Linked DNA regions of Homo sapiens. The main gene of each other region encodes a partner of the protein of the gene in region 2 in a complex. Each region holds a gene or a part of one and is shown on either strand. Other genes may lie near its edges. The genes, in order: SNAP29, VAMP8 and STX17. A codon is read from its position in the direction of its gene.

What was found.
Region 1: the proteins of VAMP8 (region 2) and SNAP29 are in contact, whole or in part, in a crystal structure (PDB 4WY4), measured with the Homo sapiens proteins. Residues at the interface, in NP_003752.2 of Homo sapiens: Leu16 (codon at 1,559), Glu19 (codon at 1,550), Val20 (codon at 1,547), Val23 (codon at 1,538), Ile26 (codon at 1,529), Met27 (codon at 1,526), Gln29 (codon at 1,520), Asn30 (codon at 1,517), Arg33 (codon at 1,508), Ile34 (codon at 1,505), Arg37 (codon at 1,496), Asn40 (codon at 1,487), Leu41 (codon at 1,484), Leu44 (codon at 1,475), Lys47 (codon at 1,466), Thr48 (codon at 1,463), Asp50 (codon at 1,457), Leu51 (codon at 1,454), Thr54 (codon at 1,445), Ser55, His57, Phe58, Thr61, Ser62, Val65, Lys68, Phe69; in NP_004773.1 of Homo sapiens: Leu206 (codon at 6,515), Leu209 (codon at 2,397), Ser210 (codon at 2,394), Leu213 (codon at 2,385), Leu216 (codon at 2,376), Lys217 (codon at 2,373), Ala220 (codon at 2,364), Leu221 (codon at 2,361), Met223 (codon at 2,355), Gln224 (codon at 2,352), Ile227 (codon at 2,343), Glu228 (codon at 2,340), Gln230 (codon at 2,334), Asp231 (codon at 2,331), Leu234 (codon at 2,322), Leu237 (codon at 2,313), Thr238 (codon at 2,310), Val241 (codon at 2,301), Asp242 (codon at 2,298), Leu244 (codon at 2,292), Asp245 (codon at 2,289), Ile248 (codon at 2,280), Lys249 (codon at 2,277), Thr251 (codon at 2,271), Glu252 (codon at 2,268), Val255 (codon at 2,259), Arg256 (codon at 2,256), Leu258 (codon at 2,250).
Region 3: the proteins of VAMP8 (region 2) and STX17 are in contact, whole or in part, in a crystal structure (PDB 7BV6), measured with the Homo sapiens proteins. Residues at the interface, in NP_003752.2 of Homo sapiens: Gly9 (codon at 1,580), Val13 (codon at 1,568), Leu16 (codon at 1,559), Gln17 (codon at 1,556), Val20 (codon at 1,547), Glu21 (codon at 1,544), Val23 (codon at 1,538), Lys24 (codon at 1,535), Met27 (codon at 1,526), Thr28 (codon at 1,523), Asn30 (codon at 1,517), Val31 (codon at 1,514), Ile34 (codon at 1,505), Leu35 (codon at 1,502), Arg37 (codon at 1,496), Gly38 (codon at 1,493), Leu41 (codon at 1,484), Glu42 (codon at 1,481), Leu44 (codon at 1,475), Arg45 (codon at 1,472), Thr48 (codon at 1,463), Glu49 (codon at 1,460), Leu51 (codon at 1,454), Glu52 (codon at 1,451), Ser55, Glu56, Phe58, Lys59, Ser62, Gln63; in NP_060389.2 of Homo sapiens: Ser171 (codon at 5,648), Trp172 (codon at 5,645), Thr174 (codon at 5,639), Leu175 (codon at 5,636), Asp178 (codon at 5,555), Leu179 (codon at 5,552), Glu181 (codon at 5,546), Leu182 (codon at 5,543), Leu185 (codon at 5,534), Val186 (codon at 5,531), Phe189 (codon at 5,522), Leu192 (codon at 5,513), Val193 (codon at 5,510), Gln196, Glu198, Lys199, Ile200, Ser202, Ile203, His206, Val207, Ser209, Ala210, Asn213, Val214, Glu216, Gly217, Thr218, Asn220, Leu221.

The regions. Positions count from the first base shown.
Region 1 is NC_000022.11:20,882,978-20,890,080, reverse strand, and holds part of SNAP29 (synaptosomal-associated protein 29), read right to left. Parts: intron 6,611-7,103; coding exon 6,512-6,610; intron 2,403-6,511; coding exon 2,245-2,402; 3' UTR 1-2,244. UniProt on the Homo sapiens protein: SNAREs, soluble N-ethylmaleimide-sensitive factor-attachment protein receptors, are essential proteins for fusion of cellular membranes.
Region 2 is NC_000002.12:85,573,582-85,580,609, reverse strand, and holds the start of VAMP8 (vesicle-associated membrane protein 8), read right to left. Parts: upstream 3,025-7,028; 5' UTR 2,964-3,024; coding exon 2,961-2,963; intron 1,602-2,960; coding exon 1,443-1,601; intron 869-1,442; coding exon of another isoform or gene 736-868; intron 1-735. UniProt on the Homo sapiens protein: SNAREs, soluble N-ethylmaleimide-sensitive factor-attachment protein receptors, are essential proteins for fusion of cellular membranes.
Region 3 is NC_000009.12:99,958,557-99,965,659, reverse strand, and holds part of STX17 (syntaxin-17), read right to left. Parts: intron 5,744-7,103; coding exon 5,628-5,743; intron 5,556-5,627; coding exon 5,505-5,555; intron 1-5,504. UniProt on the Homo sapiens protein: SNAREs, soluble N-ethylmaleimide-sensitive factor-attachment protein receptors, are essential proteins for fusion of cellular membranes.

The DNA.
Region 1 (7,103 bases), on a different chromosome or scaffold from region 2:
ACAGGACGTAGAACGAGAGGGTCTGAACAAGAACAGGACAAAACGAGGCCCTCTAATATGTCAGACGAAGACAAATTTCCAGAAAAGTGAAGGCAACTCCCCTTCCATATACCTGGGGTTAAGAAAAAAAAAACCAAAAAACAGAGAAGGGCGGGTGACTGGCTTCATCAGTCCAGCAAAAGACAGGGAATGTGCATAAAATAAGATGTTACTGTGCTTCAAGTCAGTTGAATCACTAATCTCATTAGGCAAGTGGAAGTCTGCTGAGAATGTGGCAGTGGCCTTTACATGTATTTATTTTAAATAATTAGCTTAGGTCTGAGCTATAATGACTAATCTCCACGAGTCTATGCCTGACGGTGATAAAAAGTTGACATACATGGAAGGTGTTAGAGGAAAGAACCAGAAACAATTACAGTAAGTGGAACCGTGCACAAAAGCTGCTCTGCATCCCGGGTTCATGCTTTTAAGCAGCCTTTTTGCTGAAAGCCTCACGAAGTAGTTTTGTTTGGGTTGAGTGTTATGTTTAAAATTTCCCTTCTACCAGTTATTGAGAAAATAATAATGCCGAGCTCATCTAATAAACAAATGTCTAGTTCGATAAGCTTTAATCAGGCCCTCACACCCTGGGATGGTCGTTAATGACATGGATCAGAATCCCTGAGGTGGCTGGAATCTAACAAGTGGGTAGCACAGAAAGCTCACCTTGCCTATGGAGGCTGTGGATATTTTTAGGAAGGTCATGCATTATGGGATGGGAATTTTTATAAACAAATTGCTACATAAAAACTAATGCACTGTTGCAGCACTTGTGGAGGTTTCCTTTGCTTTGAGACACCACTGTTTATAGGCTGCAGACTGTAAAGGGAAGTACTGGGAAATGGCAAAGGTCACATGGGCCAGTGCCATGTTTTAAGGTCAAAGGCACTGTTATTTTAAGTGACCTATCTCATTATTAAAATCAGTCACTTTCACCATCTTCAAAATATTTTGTTTTTTTAAAAAGACAAGGGCCTTGTGGCTCCAACTATTTTGTTGGATGTACCAACATAAATAAATCAGTTTTAATTGATGCTTCTGCATGATTTCTTTTGTAAAATGAAAGGAGAAAATGAACTGGGCCAGTTAAAATGGTATCTGGGCTTTTTGCCCCCTTAGCAAAATCCTTCTATACAAAGTCAGCGTCATTTATAGAGTGCCAGTCCTAAAACCAGGTGGCAGAGAAATAAGTGATGATTCAAGTTACCTTGCAAGAAGTGCAGAAGAGTGGGTGGGAATGCTAGACAGGTCAGGAGACCCCCGGTACCAAATAAACATTTTGCCCTACTGAGGCCTGCCTAATGGTGATTCCCAGAGGGGTGGAGGAAGACCATTGTGCAGCTGCATCTGTGCAATACTCCATTCCCACAAACTCTATTGGGCGCCCCTGTCGGTCAGCCTCGCAGCCTCGAGCCAGTGGAAGACCTGTTGCAAATCACAGATGGAGAGTTACAGATGGGAGCACGTGGGGAAGAGGGGCTCACCCAATTCCCCACACATTTCCAGGAGTCGCAGTGAGCAGTGCTGGTGTGAAGCCCTCCTACTAATATACATGCCAAGGATGGGGGGCTGGAGGGAAGCGGGGACATCTGCCAACAAAAGAGCAAGATGGCACACTCTATTTCCCATTCTAACACTGATCCTTTCTGGGAGGATGAAAGAATCACAGATAATGTGCTCAGAGAGTGTGTGTGTGTGTGTGTGTGTGTGTGTGTGTGTGTGTGTGTGTGAATGATGACTCCTAAACAAAGGTGTGGGAAGGACCCTCCTCCACCAAACGACTGGTTCACAGGCCCCCTTAACACTCTGACTCATGGTAAGGCTTAGGAATGAGAAATAGAGGCTCATGGCTGCAAGACTGAAATTCTGTTCCCATCTTTCCATATGCTCATTAAAATGAGAAATGCAACTCTTCTTATTCCAGCATGGTAATCAAACGCCCAAGATATGCAGGGCCAGGCTACTGTGCTCAGACAAAAACTCTAATAAGCATTTTGCTGGAAGAACTTGGTGAGGTGTTAACCCTAGGAAAATGTGGGACAAACACTTCCTTATAACAGCAAAAATGTCTTAAGACCTACTCTATTATAACATTTGCAAACACACATTAATTTACATACTAAAATAGTAAATGAAATTTCTTGGAAGTTCAAAAAAAGATCTTTCAAATCTTTTCATCACAATAGAGTGGAAATCCGTCTGTCTTCAGAGTTGTCGAACTTTTCTTTCTGTGCTTTTTATGTTGACATCTAACTTGTCCACTTTGGTTGTCAGCCGGTCAAGAATGTCATCTTGCTCCTCAATTTCTGTCTGCATCCCCAGGGCTATGTCCTTCAGACGACCCAGTCCCATGGACAGCTCATCTGCAGGAGGAGGAAATGACACGCAGGCATGAGCAAACAGTCACGGCACCTGCAAATGCTTCTTGATGGTGTGGGTAAGTGGGAGAGACAGGGATCTGTGTTGCCTGGGGGGACTGCACCCACTGCAGAGATGAGTCTTGACTTAATTGATTCTGTCAGGGTGAAGAGTAAAGCCTTTTCCCAGGTTTGTGACTGTGTGTGTGTGTGTGTATGTGTGTGTGTGTTTGTGCACGCTGGGGGTAGGGAGATATGCCCAGGGCTGCTTTCTGCCTTTTTACTAGGAACAGCAGCCAGGAAAGAGCCAGAGAGGAGAGAGAAGAGGTGGTGCTTTGTAAGCCTTCTTACTTGCAAGATTAAATATAAAACACTAAGAGAAAAAGGATCAGGATACACAAAGGCTTAGCACTGGTACCACAAATCTAAGCAAAATCAGTTTTTTGTTTTTTTTTTTTTTGAGACAGCATTTTGCTCTTTTGTCCAGGCTGGAGTGCAGTGCCATGATCTCGGCTCACTGCAACCTCCGTCTCCTGGGTTCAAGCAATTCTTCTGCCTCAGCCTCCTGAGTAGCTGGGACTACAGGCACACGCCACCACACCCGACTAATTTTTTTTGTATTTTTAGTAGAGATAGGGTTTCACCATATTGGCCAGGCTGGTCTCGAACTCCTTACCTTGTGATCCGCCCGTCTTGGCCTCCCAAAGTGCTAGGATTACAGGCGTGAGCCACCGCGCCCGGCCAAAATCAGTTTTTTTAAAAAGGTAGTTTTGGCCGGGTACAATGGCTCATGCCTGTAATCCCAGCACTTTGAGAGGCTGAGGTGGGTGGATCGTATGAGGTCGGGATTTTGAGGCCAGCTTGGCCAACATGGTGAAACCCCATCTCTACTAAAAAATATAAAAATTAGCCAGATGTGGTGGTGCATGCCTGTATTCCCTGCTACTCGGGAGGCTGAGGCAAGAGAATCACTTGAACCTGAGAGGAGGAGGTTGCAGTAAGCTGAGATCAATGCACTGCACTCCAACCTGGGCGACAGAGCAAGACTCCGTCTCAAAAAATGAAATAAAAAGATAGGCTGAGTGTGGTGGCTCATGCCTGTAATCCCAGCACTTTGGGAGGCCGAGGTGGGTGGATCACTTGAGGTCAGGAGATCGAGACCATCCTGGCTAACATGGTGAAACCCCGTCTCTACTAAAAATACAAAAATTAGCTGGGCATGGTGGTGCACACCTTGTAATCCCAGCTACTCGGGAGGCTGAGGCATGAGAATCACTTGAACCCAGCAGGCAGAGGCTGCAGTGAGCTGAGATTGTGCCACTGCACTCTAGCCTGGGCGACAGAGTAAAACTCTCAGAAAGAAATTAAAAAATATAAAAATAAAAAGATTGTCTTCAAGTCAGGCACAGTGGCTCATGCTTGTAATCCCAGCACTCTGGGAGGCTGAGGTGGGAGGATCACTTGAGCCCAGAAGTTGGAGACTAGCCTGGGCAACAAAGCGAGACTCCATTTCTAAAAAAGAAAAGAAAAGAAAGAGAAAAACAGTATAATTAAAATTAAAAAAAAAAAAAAGATAAGTCTTCAGCTCTTTGCTTCTTAAGCTTACTAAAATTCATGGCCTCGTGCTCCATGGAGAGCAGAGCCTGTGGTTGCCTCAGGCCTCAGGAGGAAGCTCACTGGCAGCCAGGGCAGCAAAGGATAAGCAAACAGAGAGGCTGAGATAAAATGTGTGATAATGTAAAACCACCAGGCCAGGGCGCTGGAGTCCAGAGAGCTTGCCTGAGATCCTGAAATAGCAGGGAGATAGTGTTAAGACGGGAAGAGTGTGAACAAAGGCAACACTCCCTGCCCCACCAGAGTGGACCGGCCTGGCCTGTGTCAGCAGGGCCAGAGGGCTGAGCTCTGAACTAGCCACTCGCCCTTCTGCCCAGGCCCACCTCCTACTCTAGACTGCGTCCTGCCGGTAACTGCCCAGCTGCTCGTCCACAGTGCCAACTGTGCACCCTCAGCACCTCCTAGTGGCGGGCAGTACTCAGCACTTCTTCCTGCCTCTGAATGCAGTATCCTTCCTCAAAGTCCCTTCTCCCACTTCTGCCAGCAGGCACCAACCATACCACTAGCCCTAACCTCTCCCTTTCTCGCAGTGAAGGACAAAGGGCTTTCACGCCTCTCTGGGCTTCTCTGGAGTGGTTAGATCTGGGCAGACACACCTTCTGCCTCAGATAAGTCTTTGGCTCTGGAGGACAGAGTCCAGGGCATAGAAGGAGGTGGCAGCTGTCTGGGGCTTCCCAGACAGCAAGCAGGAGAAAACCCGTGCACAGACACTCCATGTGCATCTTCATGGGTTTCAGTTTTGCCTTCCACTAGATACCTTTACAGCAGGGGAGGATTTTATTATTTGTCCCCTACACTTTGCCAACTCCTAACAGGGGGTGGGAGACTGACAGGGTGACCCAGGTCACCACGGGGGAGATTTCTGCTCAGGGAGTAGCGGTAGGAGGAGGCAGCAAGTCTGAGACACTACTTAGAATAAACTCACAGAACTGCCCACAGGCCAACACCTACTTGAATTTCAAGTAACTGACTTTTCCATTCAAAAAATAATCACTGGCTAGGGCGCAGTGGCTCACACCTATAATCCCAGCACTTTGGGAGGCCGAGACAGGCGGGTCACCTGAGGTCGGGAGTTCGAGACCAGCCTGACCAACAAGGAGAAACCTCATCTCTACTAAAAATACAAAATTAGCTGAGCATGGTGGTGCATGTCTGTAATTCCAGCTACTCGGGAGGCCGAGGCAGGAGAATCGCTTGAACCCAGGAGGCAGCGGTTGCAGTGAGCTGAGATTGCACCATTGCACTGCAGCCTGGGCAACAAAAGCAAAACTCTGTCTCAAAACAAAACAAAACAAAACAAAACATAATCACTAAGTGCTTGCCTGCTGGGCCCCAGATACAAAGTAGTGACAAAATGGAAACACTCCCATGCTGTCCTGGAATCTACAGTCTGATTGGGAAGACAGCAGGCAAACCAGCAGATACACAATCACAAACGGCCAGGGCAGCCCCCTGGAAACACAAGGGTCCTGAGAGACAGGGAGAGGAGGCCATACTAATGCAAGACTGACAGAAAGAGAAGGAGCCAGCCTACAGAGAGTCGGGGGAGCCCATCCAGGCAGATAGGGGCCACGAGGCAGAAAGAACTCACATCAGAAATCCCACACGAGCCTGCAGGTGATGAGGGCAGAAGGGACTAGGGCAGCCAAAGAGAGCCTGGACTGCACTGTGAGTGTGTGGGGTTCCATGAGAGAGTTCTGGAAGAATATACCCTTCACTTCTTCTTTTTTTTTTTTTTTAGGTGGAGTTTCGCTCTTGTTGCCCAGGTTGGAGTGCAATGGTGCGATCTTGGCTCACTGCAACCTCTGCCTCCCGGGTTCAAGTGATTCTCCTGCCTCAGCCACCCGATAGCTGGGATTACAGGCGCCTGCCACCACGCCCGGCTAATTTTTGTATTTTTAGTAGAGACAGGGTTTCACCATGTTGGTCAGGCTGGTCTTGAACTCCTGACCTCGGGTGATCCACCCGCCTTGGCCTCCCAAAGTGCTGGGATTGCAGGCGTGAGCCACTGCGCCCGGCCCCCTGCACACCCTTCCGTTTTGAAACATCATGCTGGAGGCTGTGTGGCCAAAGTGCCAATTGCAACACGAGCACTAACTCTTACCATCCCAGGCACTTTCTGGCTCAGGTAACCTTTCCACTGTTCTCAGAGGTAGCCCATTTCACAAGGAGGAAAACAGGGCTCTGAGTGGCCAGGTGGGAAGGATGAAGTGAGCGGTCACGTCCAGGCTATACTTTATGGCCTCTCAGGGACTCCTGGGTCCCTGGTGCTGTTCATGAAAGTGAGAGGTGGGGAGGGCTCGGCTGGGCTAGAAGTAGGAAATGGTGAGAAGTGGAGAGATTCCAGAGACAGTGAGGTGGCAAGATGGACCCAGCTTGGCGTGGGATGTGATGTGTGGTGAGGGAACTGAAGCTGGAGGATGCTCATGCAGGGGCTATGCTTGGCGTAAGCTGCCTGAAGGACAGTGGCTTACAGAAGCTGGTGTGGTGCTCAGTCTTACCTAGGTTGCTGTCGATCTTCTGGTGATAGGCTCGAAGGTGTGGGTTCTTTGGGTAAGCATCAGTACTCATGGCAGAACCAGCCCCTCTGGGGACAGGGTCTAAGTTTAGAAGGAAACACCAGGAGAGCGGTTAATTGACATTCCTTCAAATGCTGCTTCACACACCCAAAACAATTTCATCTGGAAAATGGGTGGAAGGAACGAAGGGGTTGGTTCTGAGGCTATCCAGAGGGATGAGGGAGGAGCACAGCGCAGGCTCATGGGCCAGAAGAAGAGACGCTTCCACGGGGTAGGAGAGGGTTCTCACTTTCCCTCAGTACTTGGGAGATCAAACACCCTCAAATTAAGGGTCACCTAACTCCTGGTGCACAAGCTCAGGAAAGACAGAGTCACACAAGTGACAATACAGAAGTGGAACTGCAATAATGCAAAACTACACAGTCTGTGGACAAAGTATAAAAATACAAATTGTTACGTTACATAAATGGAATTATGGGTAATTTCGTTTCTTTCTGAAATTTATTTCTACACTATCTTTGCACTTGAAACAAATACGCAAAAAAAAAAAAAAGAAATGTTAAATAATGCACAT
Region 2 (7,028 bases):
CCGGGTTGAAATTTAGAATTCTCAGGATCCTAGGAGGTCTCCACCTAGATATGACTAGGGGTCCCCTTTCTCTTCTTACCCCTGCACACTGAGGGGTCCTCGACACCTGCTTACACCCAAGGGTACAACACTGGCAGCAAAATCTGCCCTTGGGAGGGCAGACCCTGGGACTGAGGGGTGCAGGCTCCAGGTGGGCACATCTCGCAGCTCCAGGACTCCTTGCCCCATCGGGACTGCTGAGGCTGGAGGAGGGACCAGGACAGGATAGAGGGTTGGAAGTAAGGGAACTCCTCCTCCTCCACCCACTCTTCCCCATGCCCAGCAATTCAAGTTATAGACACTAAATTTCCTGGGGCTTGTCCAGACATGGTGGCTCAAGTCTGTAATCCCAGCACTTTGAGAGGCCAAGGCAGGTGGATCACCTGAGGTCAGGAGGTCAAGACCACCCTGGCCAACAAGGCAAAACTTCGTCTCTACTAAAAATACAAAAAATTAGCCAGGTGTGGGGGTGCACACTGTAATCCCAGCTACTCAGGAGGCTGAGGCACGAGAATCGTTTGAACCCAGGAGGTGAAGTTTGCAGTGAGCCAAGATTGCACTCACTCTAACCTGGGCAACAGAGTGAGGCTCTGTCTAAAAAAAAAAAAAAAATTCCCGGGGCCATGCTCCCCAAATTAAGCTACAATTAAGCTACAGAAACAGGCAATGAGCCCCAGGGAGACAAGGGAGCAATACCCAAGAGCCAAGAGTTCACACAGGACTCAGAAAGCCAGAGCCAGCCTCCCCGCTGAACACAGAACTTGAGGCTCCAGACTTTGCTCAACTTTGGAGTTACTTCCTCCCTGAAACAGCTGGCCTCAGCCCCTGGCTGGAGAGAGAGAAGAATGAGGTCTAGCAAGATGTGTGGGAGATATTATTTTAGCCTTCATCTAGCAGGGGACCCTGGGATCAAAGCATTTCACTGCTCTTTCCCCCTTCTTTTTAAAGCCTACTCAGCAAGACGCCAGCAATTTCCCACCCCTTGTCTAACAGCTCCTAGAGAAGGCTAGAGGCCACAGCGGGGGTTTCCTCAGAGCCAATATTTCTGCCCTGGGAAGGTCAGACCCAGATGATTGTCATGGGCAGGCTTCAAAGGGAAAACAAGTTTCCCGGGAGAGAAGCCTGAGAATGCATGGGCTGACTGAGCTTTCGGTCTCAGAACATGCCTCTATGGGCGAGCTGCCACCTCAAGCCCCAGTCATGGGATCCATTCCCTGGGATCCATAACAATCTGTGGAGCAGAGCAGATTCAGAAGTGGAGACTCAGCTCACATCAGCTCCCAAACCAGGTGAAAGGCAACAGAAATGTCAAACTTCTGGCCCTCCTGTCCATTTTGCCCCACCAAAAAGAAATTCCCTCCCTCCCTGTTTTCCTCCAGCCCCCAGTGGGCTCCCTGTCTCACTGTGGCTTCCAGATCCTCTGTCTTGTTGCGGAGATGTTCCAAGTTTTCCCCCCGGGCCAGGATCCGCTCCACATTCTGGGTCATAATATTCTTAACTCCCTCCACCTCACTTTGCAGGTTCCGCACACGATCATTTCCTCCACCTTCACTGGCTTCCTCCTGTGCGGCAACACGGGGTTAATTAGACCAAGTGGTGGGGGAACTGGAGACTTGGGCTCAGAGATCTGGGGAGGGTAAGGCCTCAGGCAGACTTAAGCTTTTTGTAAAATGCTTGAAATGTTTACAAAGAGAATGTTTTCATGTATTACTTCTGTAATCAAAAATAAATGCATTTGTAAGCCCCAGAAGGTGAGATGTGATGCTGAACAGACTAGATCAAACTTCTTTTGGGGTTATTAGGGCCCCTGACAAGGAAAAGCAGCACATCACTAAATCCCTCCCCACTGCTTCCTTGCTCCCTAGAGAGGGCCGTAGAATACAGCAGGGCCAGCATCTCACAATGTTCCCTTCCAGAGCAGAGCCCGCCACTATTTACAATTCCCAGAGCCACCCCCCTTTCCTGATTTCTTGGGACCCTGGTTGAAAGTGTCTGTGCTGGCCAGCAGAACACCCTCACCCAGCCCCACCCATCTGTCCCTCTAAGCCAGCTGCCGGAGCACGGCCCTGGCCGCAATGCCATTGCTGTGACCCAGAACAACAGGCAACCAAGTATCCCAGAAGGCGCCTGGAGCCGTTGAGCCACACACTTCTGCTTTCCCCACCACTGGGCGACACGTGCAGGCACCAAGCAACCGCCTGCTTATGCAGATATTAAATAAAAATACCCGCCTGGGTGTTGGGGGAAATGGAGGACTAGTCCTCCCTGGCTGATGTCTCATCTCGGAGGCTTCATGACAAGGTTTTTGAACAAGGAGAGAAAAATAGTATTTAGCTCCTCCCCGCTTGACCTCCAAAAATAGGCCAGTGGCATGGGTCAGAACTACATTATCACAGAGAACCAACTTCTGGTTCTCTTATAAACCTTTAGTTCTCTTCTCCATGTTAATGGAGAAAGGACACCCAAAGGACTCAGTGGACACACAAATCCTTTGTGTTTCTGTGTGGGGATAAAGTGAAAGGCCGGAGAGGAGAGCTTCTGCCGCTGGGCTGGAATCTGAACTGGGAACTGCCCAGGCGCTGCCTGGTGTGGTGTCACAACACCCGCCTCGGGCTCCCTGGAGGAGGAAGGCACAACAACTCTTTGCCTGGAATTCGGAGCCCCCATCGGCGCTGGCACGGAAGCCCAGCTCCCCACCAGCACAGAGGTCAGGGGAGGGAGGGAGAAGGAGTAGAAACACCTGCCAGGACAGCTCAGAGCTATTTGCAGCCAAGTTGTCAAAGAAGAGAGGCCATAGCAGCACTGGCCCAGCCCTCTAACTTTGCCACCAACTCTCCTCCCCCGACACAGCCAACCCCCAGTCCCAAGCCCCCTCTGGCTCCTCTTTAAACCAGCCCTTTCCTAGTTCCCAGTTGGCTCACCATGTCTCAGAGCAGCCCAGGCCGGTCAGTAAGTGAATTCGCCTAGTCGGCTTCCTCCCAGGGTGGCCCTCAGTTCACTTCCTGCTTGCTCCAACTTTCAGCCTGCCCCCGCCCACCTCGCATCTCGAGTCGCTCCAGCCACACCTAACTCAGGTTTCCCCAGGTAGGCGGGCATTCTTCACTGTCCTCCCAGTGGCTTCCCAAACAAGAGCTTAAACTTAAAGTAATAGGGTTCTCAGAAGCCAAAGGTCTTCTAACTTGTCAGGAATTAGAAAAGAAAGATCAAGCAGCCCTCCGAGGTTTCCAGAGGCTGGACCTCCTGATCTAGAAAGGGCAGCCTTTTTTTTTTTTTTTTTTTTTTTAAATAGAGACGAGTTCTCACCATGTTGCCCAGGCTGGTCTCAAACTCCTGGGCTCAGGCGATCCTCCCACCTCAACCTCCCAAAGTCCTAGGAGCCATGATGCCCCACCAGCCATCTCCTTGTAATGTCTTGAATATCTGACTCCAGTTTCTAGAGACTGAGATCAACCATGCCAGGCCTAGCTCACAGGGAAACAAAATGCAGTTATGAAAATGTATTGCTGGATAACACTTGTTCCCAGGTCCCTGGGTGGCAGAAAGCACTAAAATCCCTGAAGTCTGGAATACTGTGATCCTGGGCTCTGATTCAGAAAGTTCTGGGTTACTAGTTACAGGCCCCTCAGGGAAACTTTTCACCTCTGTGGAGTTTGCAGGTGCTGATGCTTAGCTCAGATGGTGCTGGTAAGAAGCAAAAAGAGGCCGGGCGTGGTGGCTCACGCCTGTAATCCCAGCACTTTGGGAGGCCGAGGCGGGCAGATCACAAGGTCAGGAGTTAAAGACCAGCCTGGCCAACATGGCGAAACCCTGTCTCTACTAAAAATACAAAATAATAAACAGGCGTGGTGGCAGTTGCCTATAATCCCAGCTACTCAGGAGGCTGAGGCAGGAGAATTGCTTGAACCCGGGAGACAGAGATTGCAGTGAGCTGAGATCATGCCATTGCACTCCAGCCTGGGTGACAAGAGCAAGACTCTGCCTCAAAAAAAAAAAAAAAAAAAGAAGCAAAAAGATAGCATGTGCAGTGCAATGCCACTAGCACAGTGTCTATAATGATGGCTCACCAAACCTCTCCTTCCCTTCCAGAGTTCAGCAATTCTGCATTTCCCTTTAGGGGCTACCGCAGAGGTAATTGATCCCAGTCAGTGATCAGAGGACTGCCCCAGTGAACCAGAGCAGGGGGCCCAAGGCAAAGGATTTTTCCACTAACCTGGCTCCAGGCCAGAGAAAATCTGATCTTCCTTGACAGTGTTTATCAAGACAGAAGAACAATAACAGGGACATTCAGAAGGGAACGAACATTCTTGACCCATTCCAGAAGAAATCAGTTCCAAGGAGGAAATGTCAGCTTCTCCAACAAACACTTTTTTTGTTTGTTTATTTTGTTTTGTTTTCTTGAGATAGTCTCCCTCTGTCACCCAGGCTAGAGTCCAGTGGCATGATCGTAGCACCCTGCAGCCTTGAACTCCTGGGCTACAGCGATCGTCCTGCCTCAGCCTCCCCAGTAACTGAAACTACAGGTGCGAACCGCCATGTCTGGCTAATTTATTTTAAAACTTTTTGTAGAGATGGGGGTCTTACCATGTTGCCCAGGCTGGTCTCAAACTCCTGTTCTCAAGTAATCCTCCCTCCTCAGCTTCCCAAAGTGTTGGGATCATAGGTGTGAGCCACCACATCCAGACACAAATAATTTTTTTTTTTTTTGAGATGTTTCTCTCTTGTTGCCCAGGTTGGAGTGCAATGGCGCTATCTCGGCTCACTGCAGCCTCTGCCTCCCAGGTTCAAGCGATTTTCCTGCTTCAGCCTCCCTAGTAGCTGGGACTACAGGTGCATGCCACCAGGCACGGCTAATTTTTTTGTATTTTTAGTAGAGACAGGGTCTTACCATGTTAGTCAGGGTGGTCTCGAACTCCTGACCTCTCAGGTGATCCGCCCGCCTTGGCCTCCCAAAGTGCTGGGATTACAGGCGTGAGCCACCGCGCCCGGCCACAAATGCCTTTTTAAAAGCTTTAAACAAACTTCGGACCCCTGTAGCTTTTTTTTTTTTTTTTTAGAGGCAGGGTCCCACTCTGTCATCCAGGCTAGAGTACAGTGCAGTGTGTTCAAGCTCACTGCAGCCTTGAACTCCTGGGCTCAAGCAATCTTCTCACCTCATCCTCCCCAGTTAGCTGGGACTACAGGCAAGGGCCACCATGTCCAGTTAATTTTTTTTTTTTTTTGGAGACAGTGTCTTGCTGTGTTGTCCAAACTGGTCTCAAACTCCAAACCTCAAGTGATTCTCCCACCTCAGCCTCCCAAAGTGCTGGGATTATAGGCATAACCCACCATGCTCAGCAAATATTATATATAAGCCTGGGCAACAACATATCAAGACACTGTCTCTATAAAAAAATAAAACTGTTGGACACAGTGGCTCATGCCTGTAATCCCAGCCCTTTGGGAGGCCGAGGCAGTGGATCACCTGAGGTCAGAAGTTTGACACCAGCCTGATCAACATGTCGAAACCCCATCTCTACTAAAAATACAAAAACTAGCTGGGCATGGTGGTGGGCACCTGTATTCCCAACTACTCGGAAGGCTGAGGCAGGAGAGTCGCTTGAACCTTGGAGGCGGAGGTTGCAGTAAGCCGAGATCACACCGTTGCAATTCAGCCTGGGCGACAGAGTGAGACTCTGTCTCAAGTAATAATAATAATAATAATAATAATAAAATAAAAATAAAGTAAAATTAAAAAAATAAAATTGGCTGGGCACCGTGGCTCACGCCTGTAATCCCAGCACTTTGAGAGGCCGAGATGGGCAGATCACCTGAGGTCGGGAGTTCGAGACCAGCTCTTGACCAACATGGAGAAAACCCATCTTTACTAAAAATACAAAATTAGCCAGGCATGGTGGCGCATGCCTGTAATCCTAGCTACTCGGGAGGCTGAGGCAGGAGAATTGCTTGAACCCGGGAGGTGGAGGCTGCAGTGAGCCGATATCACACCATTGCACTCCAGCCTGGGCAACAAGAGTGAGACTCTATCTCAAAAAAAAAAACCAATAATAAATAAATAATAAAATAAAATTAGCCAGGCATAGTGGTGCATGTCCATAGTCCTAGCTGCTTGGAGAGCTAGCACAGAAGGATCACTTGAGCCCAGGGGTGTGAGACATCAGTGAGCTATGATAGTGCCACTGCACTCCAGCCTGGGAGACAGAGATAGACCCTGTCACTAATAATGATAATAATAATAATTTTATATATTGATTATGTGGCGAAATAATGTTTGGATATATTGAGTTAAATAAAAGATTAATAAAATAAATAAAATTAATTTCAGCCGGGGATGGTGGCTCACACCTATAATCCCAGCACTTTGAGAGGCTGAGGCAGGCCGATCATGAGGTCAGGAGATTGAGACCAGCCTGGCCAACATGGTGAAACTCCGTCTCTACTAAAAATACAAAAATTAGCTGGACGTGGTGGCGCTTGCCTGTAATCCCAGCTACTCGGGAGGCTGAGGCAAGAGAATCACTTGAACCTGGGAAGCAGAGGTTGCAGTGAGCCGTGATGGCGCCACTGCACTCCAGCCTGAGTAACAGAGTGAGACTGTCTCCAAAAAAAAAAAATAATAATAATAATAATTTCACCTGTTTCTTTATTTTTTAAAATTCATTTTTATTTATTTATTTATTTTTTTTGAGACAGGGTCTCACTGTCACCCAGGCTGGAGTACAGTGTCACAATCATAGTTCATTGTAACCTCAAATTCCTGGTTTCAAGTGATCCTCCTGCCTCAGCCTCCTAAAGTGTTAGCATTACAGGCATGAGCTACTGCATCCAGCCCTGTTTCTCTTACTTTTAAAATTTGGCCAGTAGAAAAATGTAAATTATGTGATTAGTGAAAAATGTTAAAATACATATTGTAATGTGGCTTATCACTGGGCATGGTGGCTGATCCATACCTTAATATTTACATGACCTGGGACAAACTTGCATAACAACTC
Region 3 (7,103 bases), on a different chromosome or scaffold from region 2:
GCTTTCTTTTTCTGACCCATAGAAGAAAAAGTTCCAGCACTAATAATATACAACTTGTCTAGATTTCTGACACCCTATCATTGTTTCTATTTAGGACACCCCCAACACTTTCCACTCTTGCCTGAAACAGTCTATGCTAGCAGATAAATCACAGGCTTAAAACTCTACCATCAGCCGTCATATGTTGATGAGTTGAAAGGTAGAGGAAAAATAGTCAGTGTCTCCCTTCCTTCAGCCCCAAAATAATTCCAGCAAGAGGGAGGAGCCTGCCAGGATTATTGCCATTTCTATACCCCAAGTGTAATCGTAAAGCCTCAGGGAAATACTTTCTAATGTTCCTTCCTTTAAAAAGGGTTGGATATTGTACTTCTATGACTTTTTAAAAATTAAAGCAAAATTTTAAAATAATTTAAATATTTTTTCATAAAAATCATTTGGAATAACTGAAGAAGCAACCACAGGCAAAAAACCAATCCTGAGATCACTAATTATTTGAACTACAAAGTTCCCCATCATTGCAATCACCAGCATTTGATGAGGCCCATCCCACCCTGGGGAGTAGCCCACATCTATAAGTATTTATTCATGCCATCAGAAAGCATGCTAAGATATGGGGCTGGGGTGTGGGAATAAGGCAGAGGGCAGACAGCCCCTATCCTGGGATCAATAATCACCCCTCGATTGTGCACGTCTGCCTTTCTCTTGTCCGTATTTTGCTTGGTTTGCAACTTCAAACTTTGCCCATATCTTCAAATTCTGCTTCTTGAGTAAGGAGGACTCACTGACCCCCACAAAGGTTACAGTTAGGCAGCAAACTATTGTCACAGAGTTGTCAATTACCATCAGCAGAATGCCAAACCAGACTCCATACAGAGCTGAATTGGGTCACTACCTGTCCACTATGTCCTTGGCTCTTTTTGTGGGACCAAAAGATACATATACAACCCTGCCCCAGCCTGTGAAATCAAGCTCTAAACATTAATGGTGGTGCAGGAGCCTCCTAACCTCTATCTATCAATCTCCCCTGAGGTTTTGCTTCTGATTTGCTCATGTTTATTTTCATCTGCTTAGGCCTCCCACATTTGACAATCTTCAAATTCCATACCTGCCATTTTATAGTTTGGCACCCCATATATGTTCTCAGCATTCCTTTAACAATGAGCTAAACCATATTTAAGTGTTTAGCTCATTACACTGCAGTGTTTCTCAAGCTAGAGTAATATACTGACCTCCTTTTACAGAAAAAGAAAATTCTCAAATGACTCTAAGAATATGTCTACGGATTTCATTTTAAAGAACATTGAATTAAGTCCCCCTATTGGCCTGAACATAACAAATCTTGACGAACAGCTATAGGAGTACCTAAGTTTCTGTATAAACTGTGATTTATTATACTTGTCAAGCAGAATGCAATTTGGGAATATAAATTCAAAACCAATGAACTGTTTTGTTCTTGAATGCCTGTTGGGGACACTTGTAGGCCTAGCATCCTCTATGTCAAGCAATAATAATACATTCAAAAATTAACCCCCAAATCCATTTATATCATTAACAGTGGTCTTCCATAGAGAGTTCTGATAGTAGTTGTAAAGTTTAAGGTTCTTGGAAAGCTACGAGTTTATTTAAGAGGGTAATACCAAAACTCCAGGTACGTCCATTTATTCCTCTCTAAATTCCAGCCAGCCTTCAAGGCCAAGTTCTAATCTTAGATCTTGACCAATCCTGTTCACATTGAGCTATTCTGGTTCTAAACTCCTATGATATATTCTATATACTCCTTAATCATATGCAATCATATACACAAAAAGGCCCAGAAACAAACTTATAAATACTATGATATATAGGCAAAATAAGTGATTATATTGGCTTCGAGTAAGCAATAAGCAGAGTAGATAAGTAGGATGTTGCTAACAGAGGATTCAGCAGTTGGAAAGGGACTGAAGGAATTCCAGTACTAAAATGCCTAAGGATAATAGTGGTGGAAAAAGTAGAATTTTTGCAAGGAGCCAAACAAGGAATGAAAATAAAGGAAGGACAAAAGTGGGAATGCAGTTGGGGTCAGTGGAAGGGAACAGAATGGGAAGTACTTAATAATACACATTACCTCATTTAGTCCTCCCATCAGTGTTATAAAGCTCATTGTTGTCAAATAACATCCTGAAGGTCACATAGGTAATAAATGAAGGAATCTGATCTAATCCATTGCAACCAGTTTTTATGTTTCCAGAGTAAAACTGGATTACAAAAACGACAGGGAATAAGGCAAAAGGCAGAAGTCAAAACAGACTAGCAGCAAGGGTGAGTTGTTACTGAACTACTGGCCCAGGGTTCTTTAAATTCTCCTTGACTAGAAATAGGGCTAGTTACAAAGTTATAGGGAGAGAAGAGGGCACTTGAACAACAAAGGCTGAAGAAAAATAGAGCAGGGTACCTAGTAGATATTAATTTATTAACATTTATTGTACTATACCTTGATCTGTCAATGGCTTTGTAAGTTCTTTTTATAGTGGTAAAATAAATATAACATAAATTTACCATTTTAACCATTTTGAAGTGTACAATTTAGTGGCAATAAGTAACTTCACAATATTGTGCAACCACTATTACTATCTTGTAAGTTTTTTAAATGCTTTTTTCTATTCCTCATTAAGCTTAGCACAGTGCTACGCAGATAGAAAGTGTTCCTTAAATACATGGTTAATTTGTCTAGACACTATCATGTCCATGTGATGATAATGAGAGGATGTGGTCACTCTGGTTATGTTCCTAGGTCATTCTGTGCCTAAATAGAGCTTCTGTGAATCCTTGGCCATGTGGTCATGAGAACTTAGTCACCCTGGGAATAATAATCAGGGGTTCTCCTTTGAGCTTTTGCTTATTAGCATTCTGTCTCATGTACTTAAACAGATTATTACAAACAGGACATTTGTATAGAGCTGTGGCTACAGCCAGAGTTTTCCTACACAAATCTCCCTTAGATTAGAGGTTATGAGCTGCTTACATAATATAATCAAACATGTAACTATCTTATGGTCACAGACCTTTAATATTTCTTTTATGTGCCTATCCCAGTAGAAAAGAAATGTGTTTGTACTGAGTAAGAACTTTGTACATGTGTAGTTTGTTTTTTAAAATCAGCTTTATTGAGGTATAATTTACATATATTAAAACACATTTTATGTGTACAGACCAATGACTTTTGGCAAGTGTATATATTTGTGTAACCATACATGTATAGGTTTTACAAACTGCACTGGATTCAGAGATTATTAGTTTACAATAGTTGAATAAATGTTGATTCTGAAACAACAGATATTTTGGGATTCTTGTTCTATTATTTCCTTCTGTTTGCGAGTATATTAATATTGTACAGATACCTAATCCAGAAACTTCAAATATTTTGCTTCTTCTAACTTAGAGGCATCCAGAAGCAATTCAAACAATTTACTGCATTCAATTTTAGGTAACACATTTCAAGAAAATATTCAGAATATGGAACATAAGCATAGTAAGAAGCCAGTATTGAGAAGCCTAGAAATTATATTGTAGAAGGAATGCAAAAGAAGCAAGGGTTCTGAAGAGAAGAAAATATGGTGGGGTGGGATAGAGTGAGGAAAGATGATGGTTTCAAAACCTTGAAAGACTTTCATATGGAAAGAAGGCAAAATTTGTTCAGTACGTAGCTTTAGAGGCCAAAAATGCCAAAAAGAAGTTATTATAGGGCAGACACTTTTAACTCTAACCCTTCTAAGAGTTAGACCCTCCAAATGCAATAGTTTAAGTATCAATATCCTTGTGCTGTAATTGTTCCAAAAGAGGCTAAAAGACCATTTATTTTAGAAATTGGGGCAAGAGTAGAGGGATTAGATTAGTTGGCCTCTTGAGTCCTTTCTCATTCCAATTCTGATTGTGTGATCTAGGAACTTCTCATTTAAAATTAGATCTCAGGGAAACCGTAACTCAAAGATAACCCCAAAATCATGGTTAGATCAGAAACAAAGAACTAAACCTAGACAGAACTGCAAGCAGAAACAGGTATGCCTGTGTGGACACACATACATAAATATACATACACACGTATTCATACATCCTACCTTCCCATAACTCCTGAGAAAGACAAAAAGAACAATTTAGAAAAATGGTGGAAAATCTATCTTTCCCAACAAATTGACTTTGTGCTTCCTAATCTATGTTAACAGTATCACTGACACCCAATTATGCAGAATAAAGACAATGTTCCTTATCTTTGGCTCCATCTTCCTCCAATTTCTGTTAAGTCCCCCAGAAATATCTCTCAGCTGTCCTTTACCTTTACACTGGTATTGCCATTGCTCCAGGTGAACTCTTGCAATTGATTCCTAACCAGTCTTCCTTTCCATGACCTCCTCCTCTCTTAGGCCATTATTCACAAAGCCAACAGTGATCTTTCTGAAGCACAGACTGAATTGCATGACTCTAACCTGCTCAAGAATCAGTATTAGGCTTTCTAATGCCCACAAAGTAAAGTTCAAATTCTTTAGCATGGCATTCAAAGCCATCACAATCTGGCCCTCACCCTCCTTGCTTGCCCATGGTACCTTATGCTTTGGTTATACTGCAGTACTTGTCAATCTGGAACAGGCCATACACTTCTCTACTCCATGTCTTTGTTCAGCTTCTCAAATATACTCCATAACTTCCCCCAGTGGATATTTACTCATTTTTCAAGGCTCATACAAATACTGTCTACCTGTGTGAAGCTATCCTTAATGCTTCTTTCTACCTTATGACTCCTGCCTCCTTCCTTTGGAATTAAATGCTTTTCCTTGGAGCTGATAATACCTCTCTTCATTCTTGCTTTTGCATTTAGCCATCATGCTTGAAAGCTCAGTTTCTGGGGTCCAGGCCTATCTCCACTCACTGTAGAATGCTCAAAGGCAGCAGGGCGTGGTGGCTCATGCCTGTAATCCCAGAACTTTGGGAGGCTGAGGCGGGTGGATCATGAGGTCAGGAGTTTGAGACCAGCCTGACCAACATGGTGAAACCCCGTCTTCACTAAAAATACAAAAACTAGCTGGGCATGGTGGCACGTGCCTGTAATCCCAGCTACTCAGGAGGCTGAGGGAGGCAAATCGCTTGAATCTGGGAGGCGGAGGTTGCAGTGAGCCAAGACTGTGCCACTGCATTCCAGCCTGGGCGACAGAGTGAGACTCCGTCTCAAAAAAAAAAAACACAAAAAACAAGAATCTTCAAAGGCAGAGAATGGGCTTCATTTATTTCTATATCCAACCTGACCACACTCTCAATGTTAAGCATCTAACACACTGCTTGTATATAACAAGTGCTTAATAAAAGTTTCTTGAATTAATCTGGAATTTGAGAACAGTTAAACTTCTATCTATGGCTTAATACCAGTCTTAAAAATTATAAGTTCTATTAAAATTCTAATTAAAAGCCTAGTGATTATAAAAGCTTCTCATTCTAATAATCCAACAATTCTGCATCCAAAACAGTTATATACTTACATTCACTAGGAGAGAGAAGTCAGTGACCAGTTGGCTAAGTTCAATTAAGTCCTTTAAAAGAAAGGGAGAGGAAGTTACTTTTATGCCTCACAACTACCAAAAAGAAAACATTTTTTAACATACCGCTTCTAAGGTTTCCCACGATTCTGCAGCATTTTGATCTTGAGGAATTTCAGGTAAGGCATATATCTGAGTCAAACTCTGAGAACTAGCTTCAGCTTCAGTAGTATGAAATGCTCCTGGATGAACATAATAACCCCATGTTTAGAGTTTATTTGCTTTGTTAGAAAAGAGACAGCATAAATTGATTTCATAAAACAAATGCCACGTTAAATGGTGTCTAATTAAATTTAGGCTAAAAGGAAATTGATTATTCTACAAAAATAGAATTGTTTGGCTGGGTGCAGTGGCTCACACCTATAATCTCAGCACTTTGGCAGGCTGAGGCGGGAGGACTGCCTGGGCCCAGGAGTTCAAGACCCGTCTGGGCAACAGAGTGAGACCTCGTCTCTACAAAGAAATTAAAAAGTTAGCCAGGTGTAGTGGCACACACCTGTAGTCCCAGCTACTTGGGAGGCTGAGGTGGGGGGATCACTTCAGCCTGGGAGGTCGAGGTTGCAGTGAGCAGTGATCACGCCGCTGCACTCCAGCCTAGGTGAACAGAGCAAGATCCTGCCTCAAAAAAAAAAAAAAAAAAAAGATTTATCCATAGGGTAGCTTGTTCCCCAGATTAGTTAACACATTTTTTTTTTCTAAAATTTTTTTTTTTGTTTTTAATTGACACACAGTCTTGCTATGTTGCCCAGGCTGGTCTTGAACTCCCGGCCTCAACTGATCCTCCTGCCTCAGCTTCCCAAAATGCTAGAATTACAGGCGTAAGCCATGACACCAAGCTTACACACATATTTTTTTAATCTACACAGTCATTTAAAAAATGGCTACAAATACTATCTATCCAATCTGAATAACTAGGGCTAAATGTGGAAGAAGCACCAAAAGAAAACTATTCTACTTGGCCAATGTTCCAAGGAGACGTACCTATATAAATAGGTTTAATATTTTTCATCCTTAAACTTCTATTTGGCTATTTCAATGTAAATACCAGATACAGAAGGTGTTGAAAGCAGGGAAGTAATATATTTTTATTAATGATAATCAGTCACTATTGGTAATAATAAGATTGTCACCAAACATTACCATATGTGTCTTTTTTGTCACTACTCTTCTCCTCAATCTTCTGGCCCATGACTCCATTGCTTCTACTTCTTTTGAGTTTTAAAAAGTTGTCAACCCAGTAGGACTTTCCCCATTAAACACTGCTATGATGATGAATTAATTCACACTTTAAAATCTACCTTCAAGTCTTTATTTCCTCATATTGGTTTTACCAATCATTCATTCATTGAGTTGACATTTATTAAATGCCTACTACCTGCTGATCAGTGTGCTGAGGTGCTGCAGACACAATGGCAAACCATAAAAACAGTTCGGAGGAGGCAACATAGTGTAGTGGTTAGGAGCCTGGGCCTAGTCAGAAAGACTTGGGTTAGAATTCTGATTTGGCTATTTATAAACTGTTTGCCTTGGGTATTTCATCTC